2 separate regions of the Homo sapiens genome follow, and region 2 is linked to region 1. Evidence: fine-mapped expression QTL. Tissue or cell type: monocytes. Region 1 holds a variant in brackets; the other region holds the start of a gene. All regions are shown on one strand. Distances are between the middles of the regions.

What was found. PIP is the estimated chance that this variant, and not a neighbour inherited with it, causes the effect.
Region 2: ECI2 starts here. The variant in region 1 is fine-mapped to the expression of ECI2 in monocytes (BLUEPRINT, PIP 0.95).

The regions. Positions count from the first base shown.
Region 1 is chr6:4,088,904-4,097,008 of GRCh38, reverse strand. It overlaps the pseudogene TEX56P. Among named protein-coding and RNA genes, the nearest start is that of FAM217A, 14 kb to the right of the region's middle. The variant TTTG/G (reference allele first, on the strand shown) is at 3,674.
Region 2 is chr6:4,131,082-4,139,186 of GRCh38, reverse strand. It overlaps ECI2 (enoyl-CoA delta isomerase 2), which reads left to right and starts at 3,612. Exons shown (of 10, transcript NM_206836.3): 1 at 3,612-3,676; 2 at 5,476-5,638. The coding sequence starts at 3,627. It overlaps ECI2-DT (ECI2 divergent transcript), which reads right to left and starts at 3,115. Exons shown (of 4, transcript NR_103764.1): 1 at 2,939-3,115; 2 at 1,785-1,826. RefSeq lists silencers at 3,057-3,266, 3,427-3,566.

The DNA.
Region 1 (8,105 bases):
TGTTTGGAAATGGCATCTTGGCAACGGAGCACATTTTTAGTGATGAATTTAAGACCTCAAAGGCCAATGTGCTCCCAGTGACTGGACTCAGCCTGAGGCCAGTTCCCTGAAGGCACAAACTCAGAACTCTGAGGAGTCATTTCTTACCCCTTAATGCTGTTCACCTCAGCTGCATGAACCTCCTTAAACTGGCTTCCAACCATAGCAAAGAATCACTGCACCCAAATACCTCTGAAACAAAGGCACCCCACTGCTGCTTGGCAGTTGTACATGGCAGGAATTACCGGCTGCTAAATGTGTACCGACGTCTATCACCGTCTACACTGGGAGGCTACGGAGACAAAATCTAAATCAACATAGAATGAGAATGTCTCTAGAAAATCAAAACTCATTTCTCCAACTTCACATAATTACTGCATTTTCAGTGTTAATGTTGCATTTTAATTACAAAAGTAAAAGGTTTCCATTGGAATAATTAAAATGAAACAACTCAGCGAAGTCTACATAGCAAAAAGGGAAAGTTTTGCTTCATTTTCCCTCTTCAAGCTCTATCCTTTCTCCAGATGTAGCCACCGTCCTGAATTTCCTAAGTCTCCTTCAAAACTCTTTTCTATGCATTTATATACACATATATATGTACAAATGTATAGTTTTCTTTTGGCATACATGGATCCATATTGTGTATCTTCCTTTGCAGCTTATTAAAACTCTATAATCTGTATTGTAGACATGTTAATGTCAACTTTCTTTTTAATAGTATTCCACTATGTGGATATATGCCTTCGTTTAATTCTTCTGCTACTGAATGTCATAGGTTGTTTAAATTTTTGACTATTATAAACAATGCTTCAGTGCACGGCCATATTTATCCATCTTTGGGCTCAGGTACAAGTTGTTTCTGTAGGATAATAACTAGAAGTGGAATTGCTAAGTTGAAGGACATATACATGTAACAGGATGTGAAAATATACATTTTTCTGTTGTCTTGTTTTGTCCAAGGCCGCAAGTCTGAGAAAACTCGAGTAGGTGCCGGACACCTATGCGTGCACAGCATCCCTATCAATATGTGAAAAAACGGAGGATTCATTCAGGATTCCTTAAGGCACTTGAGGATTTCTTTAGGCACAGAGTTGGGGCAGTGCTGTGTACTATGTCATTCCCCTTCCCACCCTTGGCTTTAAGGGGACTTTAGAGAAGTACCTGAGGAATGGGACTATGTCTCCTGACACTGGTGCTCAGTCTCCTAGGGCTGTCCTAACAGTGCCACAAAGTGGGTCACTTGAAACAACAAATTTATTGTCTCACGATTCAGGAGGCTGGAAGTCAGATATCAAGATGTCAGCAAGGCCACGCTGAAACCTTGAGGGGAGAATCTTTCTTTGTCTCTTCCTAGTTTCTGGTGTTTGCCTGCAATCCTTGGTATTCCTTGCCTATGGATGCATCACTCCCATCTCTGTCTCTACTGTCACAAGGCCATCGGCTCCTGCGTGTCTCTTTCTTCTTATAAGGTCACCAGTCATACTGGATGAAGAACTCTCTCTACACATATTACGTTCACCTAAGTTTAATTAATTACATCTGCACCCTGTAAAGATCCTATTTCCAAATCTAGTCACATTCTGGGGTGCTGGGAGTTAGGACTTCAATATATCTTGTTGAGGGACAATATATGTTGTTGAGGCAAAATCACCAATATATAGCCATATATTTTGTTGAGCCTGTAACACCTTGAAACACAATGGTGAGTGGCTGGGATCACAGCTGCCTGTGGCCACAGAGAAAAGAGGGCAGTGTTGGAAGCCAACTGTGCTTTTATCAACGGGGTGAAGGTATGGGGAGCAAGGGCACAGATTTTCTTTGAGCTAAATGTAAACCCCAGCCGGACTTGGCGGTTCATGCCTGTAATCCCAGCACTTTGGGAAGCCGAGGTGGGTGGACCACTTGAGGTCAGGAGTTTGAGAGCAGCCTGGCCAAAATGGCAAAACCCTGTCTCTACTACAATACAAAAATTAGCCAGGTGTGGTGGCGCGTGCCTGTAATCCCAGCTACTCGGGAGGCTGACGCAGGAGAATCACTTGAACCCGGGAGGTGGAGGTTGCAGTGAGCCGAGATCGCACCACTGCACTCCAGCCTGGGCGACAGATTGAGACTCTGTCTCAAAAATAAATAAATAAATAAATAAGTAAATAAATATGTAAATCCCTTGGAAAATACAACTGACCCTTGAATAACATGGAGGTTAGGGGCACTGACCCCTGCTCAGTTGAAAATAAACACATAAGTTTCTTTTGTTAAAGAGTCTTGGCCAGGCTCGGTGGCTCATGCCTGTAATCCCAGCACTTTGGGAGGCCAAGGCAGGTGGATCACAAGGTCAAGAGATCGAGACCATTCTGGCCAACATTGTGAAACCCTGTCTCTACTAAAAATACAAAAAGCTGAGCGTGTTGGTGCATGCCTATAATCCCAGCTATTTGGGAGGCTGAGACAGGAGAATCGCTTGAACGCGGGAGTGGAGGTTGCAGTGAGCGGAGATCACGCCATTGCACTCCAGCCTGGGCAACAAGTGCAAAACTCTGTCGCAAAAAAAAAAAAAAAAAAAAAAAAGTCTTGCTATGTTGCCCAGGCTGGTCTCGAACTCCTGGGCTCAAGCAATCCTCCTGCCACAGTCTTCCAAGTAGTTGAGCATGGTAGTCTAGCACCTGTACCATGCCACTACACCCAGCTACTTTTTTGACTTTTGATTCACTCAAAACTTTTACTAATAGCCTACTGTTGGCCAGAAGCCTTACTGCTAACATAAATGGTTAACACATATTGTATATGTTATGTGTATTATATATCACATCCTTAGAGTAAAGTAAGCAAAAAAATGTTATTAAGAAAATCATGGCCGGGCACGATGGCTCATGCCTGTAATCCCAGCACTTTGGGAGGCCAAGGCAGGTGGATTGCTTGAGGTCAGGAGTTCAAGAATAACTGACCAACATGGTGAAACCCCATCTCTGCTAAAACTACAAAAATTAGCCGGGTGTGGTAGCGGGTGCCTGTAATCCCAACTACTCGGGAGGCTGAGATGGAGAATCACTTGCAACTGGGAGGTGCAGGTTGCAGTGAGCGGAGATAGCACCACTGCACTCCAGCCTGGAAGACAGAGTGAGACTCTGTCTCAAAAAAATAAAAAGAAAATCATAAGAAAGAGAAATACATTGACAGCACTGTATTTATCAACACTATAAGTTTACACCATCTGTTTACAAGAAAAATCGTCTGTCTGAAGTGGCAGGCAACTATTCAATGTACAGTACATATCAAGCAACTCAACTTTTTCTTGTAACATCATGACTTTTCTCTGCTTCTTGGGAGTACTTCTAGCATCACTAATGGCACTTTTTGTGGGTCCCATAGTGTTATTCAAGTTTTATGGTATTGCACTAAACACAAAAAATACATGAGAACTGTGAAATCACTTTACTGTGAAATGCAATTTACTAGAGACATGAGCTGCTCCCACAGAGATGATTAGCATCACATGGCATTTTAAGTGGATATTCACACCACTTGAGCTCACAGCAAGAGCAACGGGAGGTGGCTATGAAATTACTACAGCACTACAGTATTACTACAGTTAATTTTCTACAGTTATGATTTAATACTGCATAATTTTTTTTTTTTT[TTTG/G]AGGTGGAGTTTTGCTTTTGTTGCCCAAGCTGGAGTGCAATGGCATGATCTCAGTTCACTGCAGTCTCTGACTCCCGTGTTCAAAAGATTCTCCTGCCTCAGCCTACTGAGTAGCTGGGATTACAGATGCCGGCCACCACGTCTGGCTACTTTTTGTATTTTTAGTACAGACGGGGTTTCAACATGTTGGCCAGGCTGGTCTTGAACTCCTGACCTCAGGTGATCTACCTCCTCGTACTCCCAAAGTGCTGGGATTACAGGTGTGAGCCACCACTCTCGGCCTAATACTGCATCTTTATTCTCATTTACATTTCCCTTGACTGTGAATGGCACCAAGTACAGTCTGTAAGTGTTTCTGTGTGTAAGTTTTTATAAATTTTAACTTTTCCTAATAGGTTTGTGTACATTTTATGGTACTAAATGATAAAGTAGACTAGTATCTACATATATTCTATGCATTCACAACATCTCTTTTAATTTTTCTTGAGTCCCACTTTGTCGCCCAGGCTGGAGTGCAGTGGCACAATCTCAGCTCGCTGCAACCTCCAACTCCCAGGTTCAAGCAATTCTCCTGCCTCAGTCTCCCAAGTAGCTGGGATTACAGGCATGTACCACCACACCGCCTAATTTTGTATTTTCAGTAAAGACAGGGTTTCACCATGTTGGTCAGACTGGTCTCGAATGCCTTACCTCAAATCATCCGCCCGCCTCAGCCTCCCAAAGTGCTGGAATTACAGGCATGAGCCACCACGCCCACTACCCTTTTTCTTAATTTTTTGTTATTTCTGGACTATATGATTGGTCTACAAATTTTTTCAAATTGTGGCACATCTTCAAAAAAATTTCCAATATATTTACTGAAAAAAATCCACCTATTGTTGCCGGATCAAGAGGACCAGAGAGAGACCTTGGGGTGTATACAGGATATCTTTATTATTGAGTGCACTTAGACCCAACAGAGTTAACGTCCAAAGACTGGGCGCAGAACAAAGACAGTACTTGCCTTTTATACATACTTCATAAAAGGGGGTAGGCTAGCTTGAAGCAAGCGTATACTGGCGTGAAAGCAGGGATACAGAGGCAGGATAAAGACAGTTAATTAAGTTGTAACAGGTTCATAACTCAGGATTACACATGACCATCGCTAAGCAACCCAGATGTCTGTTATCTAGACTTTGCCCAGGTACGGGCTTATCCTATAACCTTCATTACGGCGCCCAGGTGGCCATAACTCAGGCCTGTTCAGAGGCTCATGACCTTCACTCTACTGCTTAGATAAAACAGAATACTTTTAAGTTACCAGTTACAGAGAACAGAAATCTATAAACTGAATAAAAGGAAAATTGGTTTTTCTTCTCGCTATGTTGAGGGAGTGCTGGAAGAGTTTCCAGAGCACAGTAGATAGTATTATTAAGACTTTTTCTGTGTCTGGGCTGTGCCTGTCGCTGCCTCTGGGACAAGTCAGCCTAATCCAGGAAAGCTTATTTCTTTAATTGGTTTTATTTTTCTTTAATTTTCTGCCACACTACAAGTGGACCTGCACAGTTCAAGTAAGTTGTTCAAGGGTCAGCTGTAGTCATTTGGAGTCTGCTTGAATATAGGAGGATCTCAGGAGCATTTCCGTCAAAAGATTATGCAATTTCTATTGAAACTGGATGGAAGTGAACCTTACAAAAGCTGGGTAGGGTGGTGCTATGGTCTGAATGTTTATGTCTCTCAAAATTCATGTTAAATCCTAGCCCCCAAGGTGATGGCATTACGTGGTGGGGGTGTGTCTTTAAGAAGTGATCAGGTCACGGGAGCAGTGCCTTATAAACTAGGCGTGAGAGAGATGCCCCCCACCCCCCCTTCCTGTGTTCAAAATTGGTGGGTTCTTGGTCTCACTGACTTCAAGAATGAAGCTGCAGACTCTCACAGTCAGTGTTACAGTTCTTAAAGGCAGCGCGTCCAGAGTTTGTGCCTTCTGATGTTCGGATGTGTTCGTACTTTCTTCCTTCTGGGGGGTTCACGGTCTCGCGGACTCAGGAGTGAAACTGTAGATCTTCACGGTGAGTGTTCTAAGCTCTTAAGGTGGCATATCCAGAGTTGTTTGTTCCTCTGGTGGGTTTCTGGCCTCAGTGGCTTCAAGAATGCAGCAGCAGACCCTCGCGGCCAGTGTTACAGCTCATAAAGGGACTGCAAACCCAAAGAGCAAGCAGCAGCAAGATTTACTGCAAAGAGTGAAAGAACAAAGCTTCCATAGCGTGCAAAAGGACCCCAGCAAGTTGCCATAGCTGGCTCGGGCCGCCTGCTTTTATTCTCTTATCTGGCCCCACCCACATCCTGCTAATTGGTCCATTTTACAGAGAGCCAATTGGTCTGTTGTACAGAGAACTGATTGGTCCGTTTTGACAAGGTGCTGATTGGTGCATTTACAATCCCTGAGCGAGACACAAAAGTTCTCTACCTCCCCACTAGATTAACTAGATACAGAGTGTCAACTGGTGTATTTACAAACCCTGAGCTAGACACAGAGTGCTGATTGGTGCATTTACAAACCTTGAGCTAGATACAGAGTGCCAATTGATGCATTCACAATCCCTTAGCTAGACATAAAGGTTCTCCAAGTCCCCACCAGATTAACTAGACACAGAGTGCCGATTGGTGCATTCACAAACCCTGAGCTAGACACAGGGTGCTGATTGGTGTGTTTACAAACCTTGAGCTAGATACAGAGTGCTGATTGGTGTATTTACAATCACTTAGCTAGACATATTCTCCAAGTCCCCACCAGACTCAGAAGCCCAGCTGGCTTCACCCAGTGGATCCCATACCGGGGCCGCAGGTGGCGCTGCCTGCCAGTCCCAAGCCATGTGCCCACACTCCTCAGCCCTTGGGTGATCGATGGGACTGGGTGCCGTGGAGCAGGGGGCAGCAATGGTTGGAGAGTCTCCGGCTGCACAGGAGCCCACGGGGAGGCTCAGGCACGGCGGGCTGCAGGTCCCGAGCCCTGCCCTGCAGGGAGGCAGCTAAGGCCCCGGGAGAAATCGAGCACAGCAGCTGCTGGCCCAGGTGCTAAGCTCCTCACTGCCCGGGGCGGCGGGGCCGGCCTGCAGCTCCCAGTGCAGGGCCTGCCGAGCCCACGCCCACCCGGAACTGGCGCTGGCCCACAAGCGCCGCGGGCAGCCCGGGTTCCCACCCGCGCCTCTCCCTCCACACCTTCCCGCAAGCTGAGGGAAGCAGCTCCAGCCTTGGCCAGCCCAGAAAGGGGCTCCCACAGTGCAGCGGCAGGCTGAAGGGCTCGTCAAGCGTGGCCAGAGTGGGCGCCAAGGCCGAGGAAGCGCCCAGAGCGAGAGAGGGCTGCAAGGGCTACCAGCATGCTGTCACCTCTCACTTCCACTATGTGAGGACACAGCAAGAAGGTGCCATCTATGAACCAGAAAGTTTTCTCCAGACATGGTATCTACCTTGATTTTAAACTTCCCAGCCTCCAGAACTATGAGAAATAAATTTTTCTGTTTATAAGCTACCCAGTCTATAGTATTTGTTGTTTTTGTTTTTTTGAGATGGAGTCTCACTCTTGTCGCCCAGGCTGGAGTGTAATGGCACAATCTTGGCTCACTGCAACCTCCACTTCCGAGGTTCAAGCGATTCTCCTGCCTCAGCCTCCCAAGTAGCTGGGATTACAGGCACCCATCACCACGCCCGGCTGATTTTTGTATTTTTAGTAGAGATGGGGTGTCACCATGTTGGCCAGGCTGGTCTCGAACTCCTGACCTCAGATCCACCCGCTTCAGCCTCCCAAAGTGCTGGGATTACAGGCGCGAGCCACTGTGCCCGGCCTCAGTCTATGGTATTTTGTTATAGCAGCCCAAACAGACTAAGGCACCTGAAGAGAAGAAATCTCAGCAGGAGGCTGTGAAAACTGTCAGCCTGGGAAATAGCCAAAGAACCCACACAAACACCCCCAGGAGACAGTCTGCCCTTTTTTTTTTTTTTTTTTTTGGAGACAGAGTCTCACTCTGTTGCCAGGCTGGAGTACAGTGGTGCGATCTCGGCTCAGTGCAACCTCCACCTCCTGGGTTCAAAGGATTCTCCCGCCTCAACCTCCTGAATAGCTGAAATTACAGGCACCCGCCATCATGCCCAGCTACTTTTTGTAAACATGGGGTTTCACCATGTTGGTCAGGCTGGTCTTGAACTCCTGACTTCAGGTGATCCACCCGTCTTGGCCTCCCAAAGTGCTGGGATTACAGGCGTGAGCCCACCGCGCCTGGCTTCGGAATTGCATCTTAATCTCTGTGGCGGCTGCTATTTTGTTTTCTAAGTTCATGAGCACAGGTGGCTGCCTCTATCTTTCTCCTCCACTTAAGCAGGAACAATTCAGGAGGCAGACTCCACCCAATGCTGCAAATCGGCCCTATTATCATTGACCCTGACAGAATTTCAG
Region 2 (8,105 bases), 42 kb before region 1:
GAGATTCCTGGATATGCCAATGCCTGGAATGAGAGAACCTGGAAACTCAGAGAAACTGAGCATCCCAAGTTCACCTGAAATGGGAAGTTAACATGTGGGGCTGGAAAGAGGTGCCTGAGAAGGTAGGCAAGGGCAAATCTTGTGGGCCTTATTTGCCAGTGCTAAGCAGCTTGGGTTTGTTTAACAGGCAAAGGGGACTCACTAAGAGATTTTCAGCCAAGGGGAGAGATCGGGGAGAATCGTGTGGAGTGTAAGATTTAAAATTTAGGGAGACCAGCCTGGAAGCAGGGAGAGAATGGATTGCAGAGGTAACTGAATTAGCAAAACTGGGAAGTGGCTGCTACAGGAATCCAGGTAACAGTAATCTCAAAATCAATGAGAGCATGAATTAAGACGATGCAGAGGGATGTGAGATGAGGGGGAAAATTAAAAAAATATATTTAGGAGACAGAATCACTAGTATTTGATGAATGATAGATGTGAGGTGTCAGTGAGGTAAGGGAATCAAAGACTCTTCCAGGTTTCTAGCTTGCACTGTTAATTGGGACAGTGTATCAGAATTGTTCCTCAAGACTGAATGTGACAGACTCTGTACATGCTGTAACAACAGTATCTGATGATGTAAATATTGGAAATAAAAATTATCATGACTGACAGAGTCATCATGTAACATTCTACTCTGATATAATCTATTCTATGATCTTAAAAAAGAAACATTCACACTACCACTGAGCACAACACTGTGAAGTCGATATGCTGACCCCAAAGATTCATTATAGCCGGAGACAACACTTCCTGTGCACCTGCTAAGAGAGTCTGAGATTCTCTCAACCCAAAGAACATCAACGGCCCTCCCAGGCAGCATCAGTCCCCTGCAATCAATAAGACAGGATCTAACCAGACTGGAGGACCCCCTCCCCAAGATTTTCATAAGCTCCAGGGGAAGCTGGTTATATAACAGGGTGAAGATTAGAGCTTTAGAGAGGTCTTGACTGAGTTTCTGCCTTTCCTACTCTTATCCAGAACCATTACACCCTGAAGATATATCTGGAGTCCAGGATTTCACTGAGAACTGGATAGCTGGGCATGCCAATTGTATCTTCAATGGCTCTCTGCTTGCTCTCAGCACGGAATCCAAACTCCTTAGCACAGATACAATGATCTTCAAGCTCAGGTGGAGAATCTACCAAAATCACAATGGTTCCCTTTTGCTGCAACTGGCCCTCCCACCCACAGGGCCATGGCAGCCATGTTTACAAGGCATGGTCTGGACACCTCTTAACAGTTTAGTAAACCAAATACGGACCCAAGATGACCCTCTTTAGGATCTAGGAATCTAAATGTCTGTCTCTTTAACCAGGAATGTCTGTCTCTTTAACCATCTCCTTTCTCTCAAATGCTGGATATAATGGGGCTTTAGTAAATGACAGCTGGTAGATATGCAAATGATTTCTCCAATAGGAAAAACATTCCTCCCGAGGTTATGGTTTTATTGCTCTATGGGATATTAACCAGTTTTGTTTCTAACTTTGCAATCTATTCCAGCATTCTTTTTTTAACATTGACTATATTAAACTAGTCTTTTAACTTCTTCTTTAGCACCCTGTTGGTTCCCTAATTAATGAGCTAAGTAAATCTTTGACACATGCTCTTTCTATATTTTTAAAATTATAGTTTGAAAAAGATAAGCTAATTTCCCACACCCCACTCTTTTCTGTGGTAGGTATAAGCCTGAGAGTAGTTTGCTTGCATTGCAAAAGGTTTCACTATCAAAATATGCTTACCAGTATGAGATTTAAAAAATATTTCCATGACAGCTGTTTCATCTTCTGGAAATGAATGAGTCTTGTATTATCTGCAATATCTGATTACTGCATTTCCATTACCTCTGAGGTTATCTAACAGCCTTGGAGAGAGTCAAGGTCTCTGAGAGAGGCAGCTCAGCCTACCAACTACCACTTTGTAATATATGGAGAGGCCAGGTGTGGTGGCTCACACCTGTAATCCCAACACTGGGAGGCCGAAGCGGGTGGATCACCTGAAATCAGGAGTTTGAGACCAGTCTGACCAACAAGGTGAAACCCCATCTCTACTAAATACAAAAAATTAGCCGGGCCTGGTGGCGCATGCTTGTAATCCCAGCTACTCGGGAGCCCGAGACAGGAGAATCACTTGAACCCAGGAGGTGGAGGTTGCAGTGAGCCGAGATTGTGCCAGTGCACTCCAGCCTACGCAACAAGACGGAAACTCCATCTCAAAAAAAAAAAAATCTCTTTGGGATAAGCCCAAATTGTTCTATTTGACTTTTGGTGTTGCCCCATCTACACTATTACCCAGATCTACCTGATGAAACTTAATGATAAAGTTACTTGAGACTTGGACTCTGCCCACCTGCAAGCCTCCTGTCTTTGGGGAATTCACCTGATTAATCTTTCTGGGTCTCAGTTTCCACATCAGCTCAACAGGGCAATATGCTCAACAGGGCAATTTCCACATCAGCTCAACAGGGCAATATCATTTTCCTTACAGGGTTGTCCAAAGACTTACAATTAGCCTGGCTCACTATAGGTAGTCCACAGGTGTCAGCTACATAAATCTAAAACTCCTAGGCATGCTTGGATGGGACAACTTGGGCACAGAATTTAGAGGGGTGGTTTTGTTTCGTTTTGTTCTGTTTTGTTTTTTGGTTCTCTGGGAACTGGACAAGGTGACACAGCCAAGGCCCTTCCAACTCTTAAGAATTCTTCCCCAAAGAAAATACTTTGCAAATGCCTCAGCAGAACTCAAAAATATCCACAAACTCTTCACTGACACTAAAAACTTGGGTACTCCAAAAATCACTTCTGACCCCCAGGCGTCCTACCAGGTCTGCAAACCTTCGATTTGGGGATGCATGACCTAGCAGCTTTTAAGCATACGCCCTCAATTGTTACCCCACCTCCCGGCTCAGGGCTGGCCCTCGGGATGCAGCGACCCCTCCTCGCCAGGCTCCGCGGGACTCCGGGCAGGGCGCTCAGTGCTCCGGCAGCCACAGGGTTCGCAGAGCTGAGGTCCGCCCGAGAGAGCAGCCGCGCCTCCAGCTCGCAGTTACTCGGAGCCAGGCCGGGGAGCATCTGTGCCCCGCCCCACGCGCCGCGCAAGTCCTCCCGGGATCACCCTCCCCGCGCCGCGAACCCCCCGCACTTCCTCCACTCCCGGGTGATACCCGGCCTCGCTCCGGCCCCGCCCCCGCATCTGAGCCCCGACTCCTAACCGCCTAGAGCTCCCGCCCCGCCCACGCACCGACCCCCCCGGCCCCACCCCCGAGCCCCCGCAGCCCCAGAGGAGGCCACGGGCTAGCGATGGCGAATGCGGCGTGGCTACGCTCTCAGCCTGGCCCCGCCCCAACCCTGGCCCCGCCCATGCCCCAGGCTCCTGCCTGGGCTCTGCTCTCGGCCCCGCCCCGCACCCAAGCCCCGGCCCCACCCCCGAGCCCCCGCAGCCCGGGAGCCTAGGCCCCGCCCCCGAGTCCCGGCTCCACCCCCGAGACCCGGCCCCACCCCCGAGCCCCCGCAGACCGAGCTAGGCCCCGCCCCCGAGACCCGGCCCCACCCCCGAGCCCCCGCAGCCCTAGAGCCGCCCAAGGGATGGCGATGGCGTACTTGGCTTGGAGACTGGCGCGGCGTTCGTGTCCGAGGTAAGCTTGGAGTCCCGGCCGTTCGGCCCATGGTCGCCCGCAGGATACCGCTGTCCAGGCGAAGGTCGCCGCCGTTGGAAGACCCTCCTTCCCTATTGTCTAGGTGGCAACAGGATTTTGCTTTGCTGGTTTTCCGGTGAGGTAGTGCTAAAAAGTGACGACCTCACGCGCGCCCTCCTGCACCGCTGGGCCCGGAGTGGTCAGGATGGGCGCGTCGGGAGGTCAGGGCTATGGTTCCCTGTCAGCAGTCCCCAAGGTCTCCGCCTGCCTCCGCGCACGCTCCCATCCTCCTGGGGCCGGACTCCGGGCGGGTGAGCCGCCCCAGCTGAGCACCCGGGCCTGCACTTCCCAGCCGGGCTGCTTCTGGGGTGCAAAGCGTCGCTTGCTAAAAGCGAGGTAAACGCAAGCCGTTATCACTCGTGTGGACTTAACACTCTGCTTCTTGGAGAACACGTATGCTATAAAGTGAAATGGCCGGGTACAGAGTAACGGCTAAGAAGCACGCTGCACCTCCCTGGGGTCCCGGGAACCCGCACGAATCTGTGCATAGGGAACAAAACCGAAACACGGTGGTGGCCTTGAAGTGGTAGAATTATGAGTGATTTTCCCGACTTTATGTATTTTCTTAAATGGTCGTGTTTTTGCTATTTGTTTTTAAAACTCACGCTTTATTTAAAAATAAATTTGTTCCACATTTTGTGGAAACTTGTACATTTCGGCTTTCTGTGGATATTTTAAATTTTTCTTTCGTTTTCTACGTGGAATTTGCCATATAAGATGCAGTTTTTCCCTTTACAGAAAATCATTTTAATGTAAAACTTACTCTAGGCTGATCTTACTGAATCAGTTACTAATAGTCCAAAGTTTGAACCTAGAGTTCATTGCACCATTTTCGAGTTACATAATTGTGTTTGTGTGTTAGGTTTGGGCTTTGTAACCTGTATTATTTTAATCATCTTTTTTGCCATTAACTCTATTATTCAGTGTCATCGTCGTGAACTCCATTTTTAGCTTGTGGCCTGAGTCCTGTGCATTCAAGTTTGCCACCCCACCCCCGCTCACTATGTGTGCTTAAAAACGTGCTGATCACCCCCGCGGTGGTTGCTGTTTCTGCTCTGTTCCTGGCTGGCTGGTTAAACATACCCATAGAAAGGGGCACGCCTGCTGAGCCCCCTTCACTGACTCCCTTCCACTGCAGGTAGATTCCCTCCCATCTGCTGAGAAGGCTGTGGCTCTATCTGGAATGCCAGCAACTGCTCGTGTGTTCTTTTGAATATTTCTTGTATGTTCACATCCATTCTCCCCTCCTTCCACCTGTGTGTATGTTGGAACACCAGCTTCGCCAGCAAAGAGGCAAGAATTGACCTGATATAGCTTATGGCTTATCAGTGAGTGCAGAGGCTGTTTCAGGACTTTGGGACACTTCACTAAATTCTGTGCACTTTAGCCTTTTGGTTTCCTGCTGTCCACTGTCTTGCATGCACTTCACTTCTTGCCTTTGGCAAAATTTACATGGTCATTCCTGTTCTGGCTGCTTTTATCTTTAGTTGCTTACAGATACCTCCCTGGATGGTTACTTTTCCTTTTATTTAAAGTTACTACTGTTAGCTTCTGTATTGACTTATTATCTTGGAATCCTTACAGCCAATTATTTGCAGCCAGTTTGCTGAGGCAAGTATAAAGAAAATATCTATAGACAAACATGGCATTTTGTTATGTATAGGCTGGGAACAATTAGAAATCAGGCTGCAGAAATGTGAGGGTTGGGAACAAATAGAAATCAGTCTGCCTAATTGTAGTTCTCTGCAGGTCACTAGTTTCCCGGTAGTTCAGCTGCACATGAATAGAACAGCAATGAGAGCCAGTCAGAAGGACTTTGAAAATTCAATGAATCAAGTGAAACTCTTGAAAAAGGATCCAGGAAACGAAGTGAAGCTAAAACTCTACGCGCTATATAAGCAGGTAAATGCCTACGGTCGAACGTTATTTAAAGAATTTTGGGCAAATGACTTCTTAAATAAATACACTGTGTGTTTACTAAAATGTGGCCTTAACATTTTGGTTTGTCTTGCTCCCTCTTCTCTGAAGAGTGTGTGTGTGTATATATATATATGCCAGTTTTTTATATTAGACCTTGAAATACTATTAAGGCACAAAGTGCCTCAGTGTCACACGAGTAAAAGAGACTTACGAGATATAATATTCACATTTGTAGACCTTACTTAGCTCTTGATTAGAATAAATCAACTGAAAAAGGTATTTTTAAGACAATTGGGGAAGTTTTGAGTAAGGACAGAGTGTTAGAAGATACCTAGAAATCATCGTTAATGGTGTCAAGGTTATATAAGAAAATGTTGATATTTTTAAGAAAAGTGTACTAAGGATATAGGGGTGAAATAGCATGGATAGTTGAAGTTCTCTAAGCACAAAAAGAAAAGGATAGATGAGGCCAGGCATGGTGGCTCACGCCTGTAATCCCAGCACTTTGGGAGGCTGAGGCGGGCAGATCCCTTAAGGTCAGGAGTTTGAGACCAGCCTGGCCAACATGGTGAAACCTCATCTCTACTAAAAACTCAAAAATGAGCTGGACTGGTGGCGCACACCTGTAATCCCAGCTACTTGGGAAGCTGAGGCAGGAGAATCGTTTGAACCTGTGAGGTGCAGGTTGCAATGAGCCAAGATTGCGCCACTGCACTCCAGCCTGAGTGACAGAGCGAGACTCTGTCCAAAAACGAAAGAAAATAAAGAGAGAGAGAGATGAAGCAAGTAAGGCAGTTTGATAATTGTTGAACCTGGATGATGGGTATTGGGAATTCATTATAGTATTCTACTTTGGTATGTTTGGAAATTTTTATAACAAAATTTAAAAACTAAAGCTCTTAAGTTTCAATGCCAAAGACTTCCCTGGCATGTCTGCCTCTCTGGGCTCCTGTGTTATCTATTTTTCTGTCCTATGATGGGTATGAGCTTCTCTTTCATATGGGTGTGTATAGTAAAAAATTTAACCTTGCCCCAGAAGAGGTGTGGCTTTGCCCTCAGCTTCTGGGAAGTGAATCTCTAATGACTGGTAGGAGTCTTTATTTGCCTGGATTGTCTTAACGATGTGATTTAGGGTGGGGGCTTCAGGTTATACAGTCATGCACAGGTGATGGAGCCCTGTTAAAAACTCTGGACACCGAGACTGGATGAGCTGAGCATCTCTGGTTGGCAGGACTCCCTGTGTACTGTCACATCAATTCTGGTAGAGGTGCCCTATGCTGACTCCATGGGGAAAGGACAATGGAAACTCCACATTTGCTACTGCCCCAGACTCCATCCTGTGTGTGTCCTCCCTTGGATGATTCTAATCTCTATCCTTTCCCTTAATAAACTATTAATTGTGCGTTTAACAGCTTGCAGTGAGTTCTGGGTGTCTTTCTAGCAAATTGTTGCACTTGAGGGTGGTCCTGGGTGCCCTCCAGCCTTGCAATTGGTGTTAGCATTGAGGACAGTCAGGAGACAAAGGCAAGCCCTTATCCTGTGGACTGTGTTCCCTCTAACTTCTAGGTTGGCCAACTCTTGCCAGATGACACTATCTCTGTCTAAAGAAATTCATAACCTCCTTTACTGCCTTTTTCTTTTTTCTTTTTTCTTTTGTTTTTATTTTGTTTTTTTGAGACAGAGTTTTGCTCTGTCACGCAGGGTAGAGTGCAGCGGCACCATCTCAGCTCACTGCAACCTCTGCCTCCCAGGTTCAGGCAATCCTTCTGCCTCAGCCTCCCAAGCAGCTGGAATTACAGGAACCTGCCACCATGCCTGGCTAATTTTTGTATTTTTAGTAGAGATGGGGTTTTACCATATTGGTCAGGCTGGTCTCGAACTCCTGACCTCAGGTGATCCACCCACCTCAGCCTCCCAAAGTGCTGAGATTACAGGTGTGAGCCACCACACCTGGCTTGTTTTTCAAAGACTCTTTCTTCTTTCCTCTCTAACTGTATTATAAAATTTTAAAAATTTTAACTGGAATTTTAAATTGCTATTTCTGAAAAGTAGCTGAGTGGGATATTTTATTCATCTCAAAACACCCACTCCACCTAGCCTCAAAAATAAAATTTAATTCCTTTTTGCTTTTTACTTACATGTTCTTCAGTTAGGTTTCCTAAGAACCAGTAGCTCTGATAGCCCCACCCTAGCCCCTCAGCTACAGTTTTGTTACCCAGGTACCAAAAGTCCACCACTGAATTAGTGGTGTTTTTTTTTGTACCTTCAGATGGGCTTTTGGAATATGCTGTGGGTTTTCAAGTATTTGTTGACTAGTTCCTTGTAAAGATTGTTTGCTTGAATATTTTGATTGTTTGTGGAAAATGTGATTACCAATATAAAACTAATGAACCATTAGATTTTTTTAGAAAATACTTCCCCAAAACCTTTATCCTGCATTATTTTCATA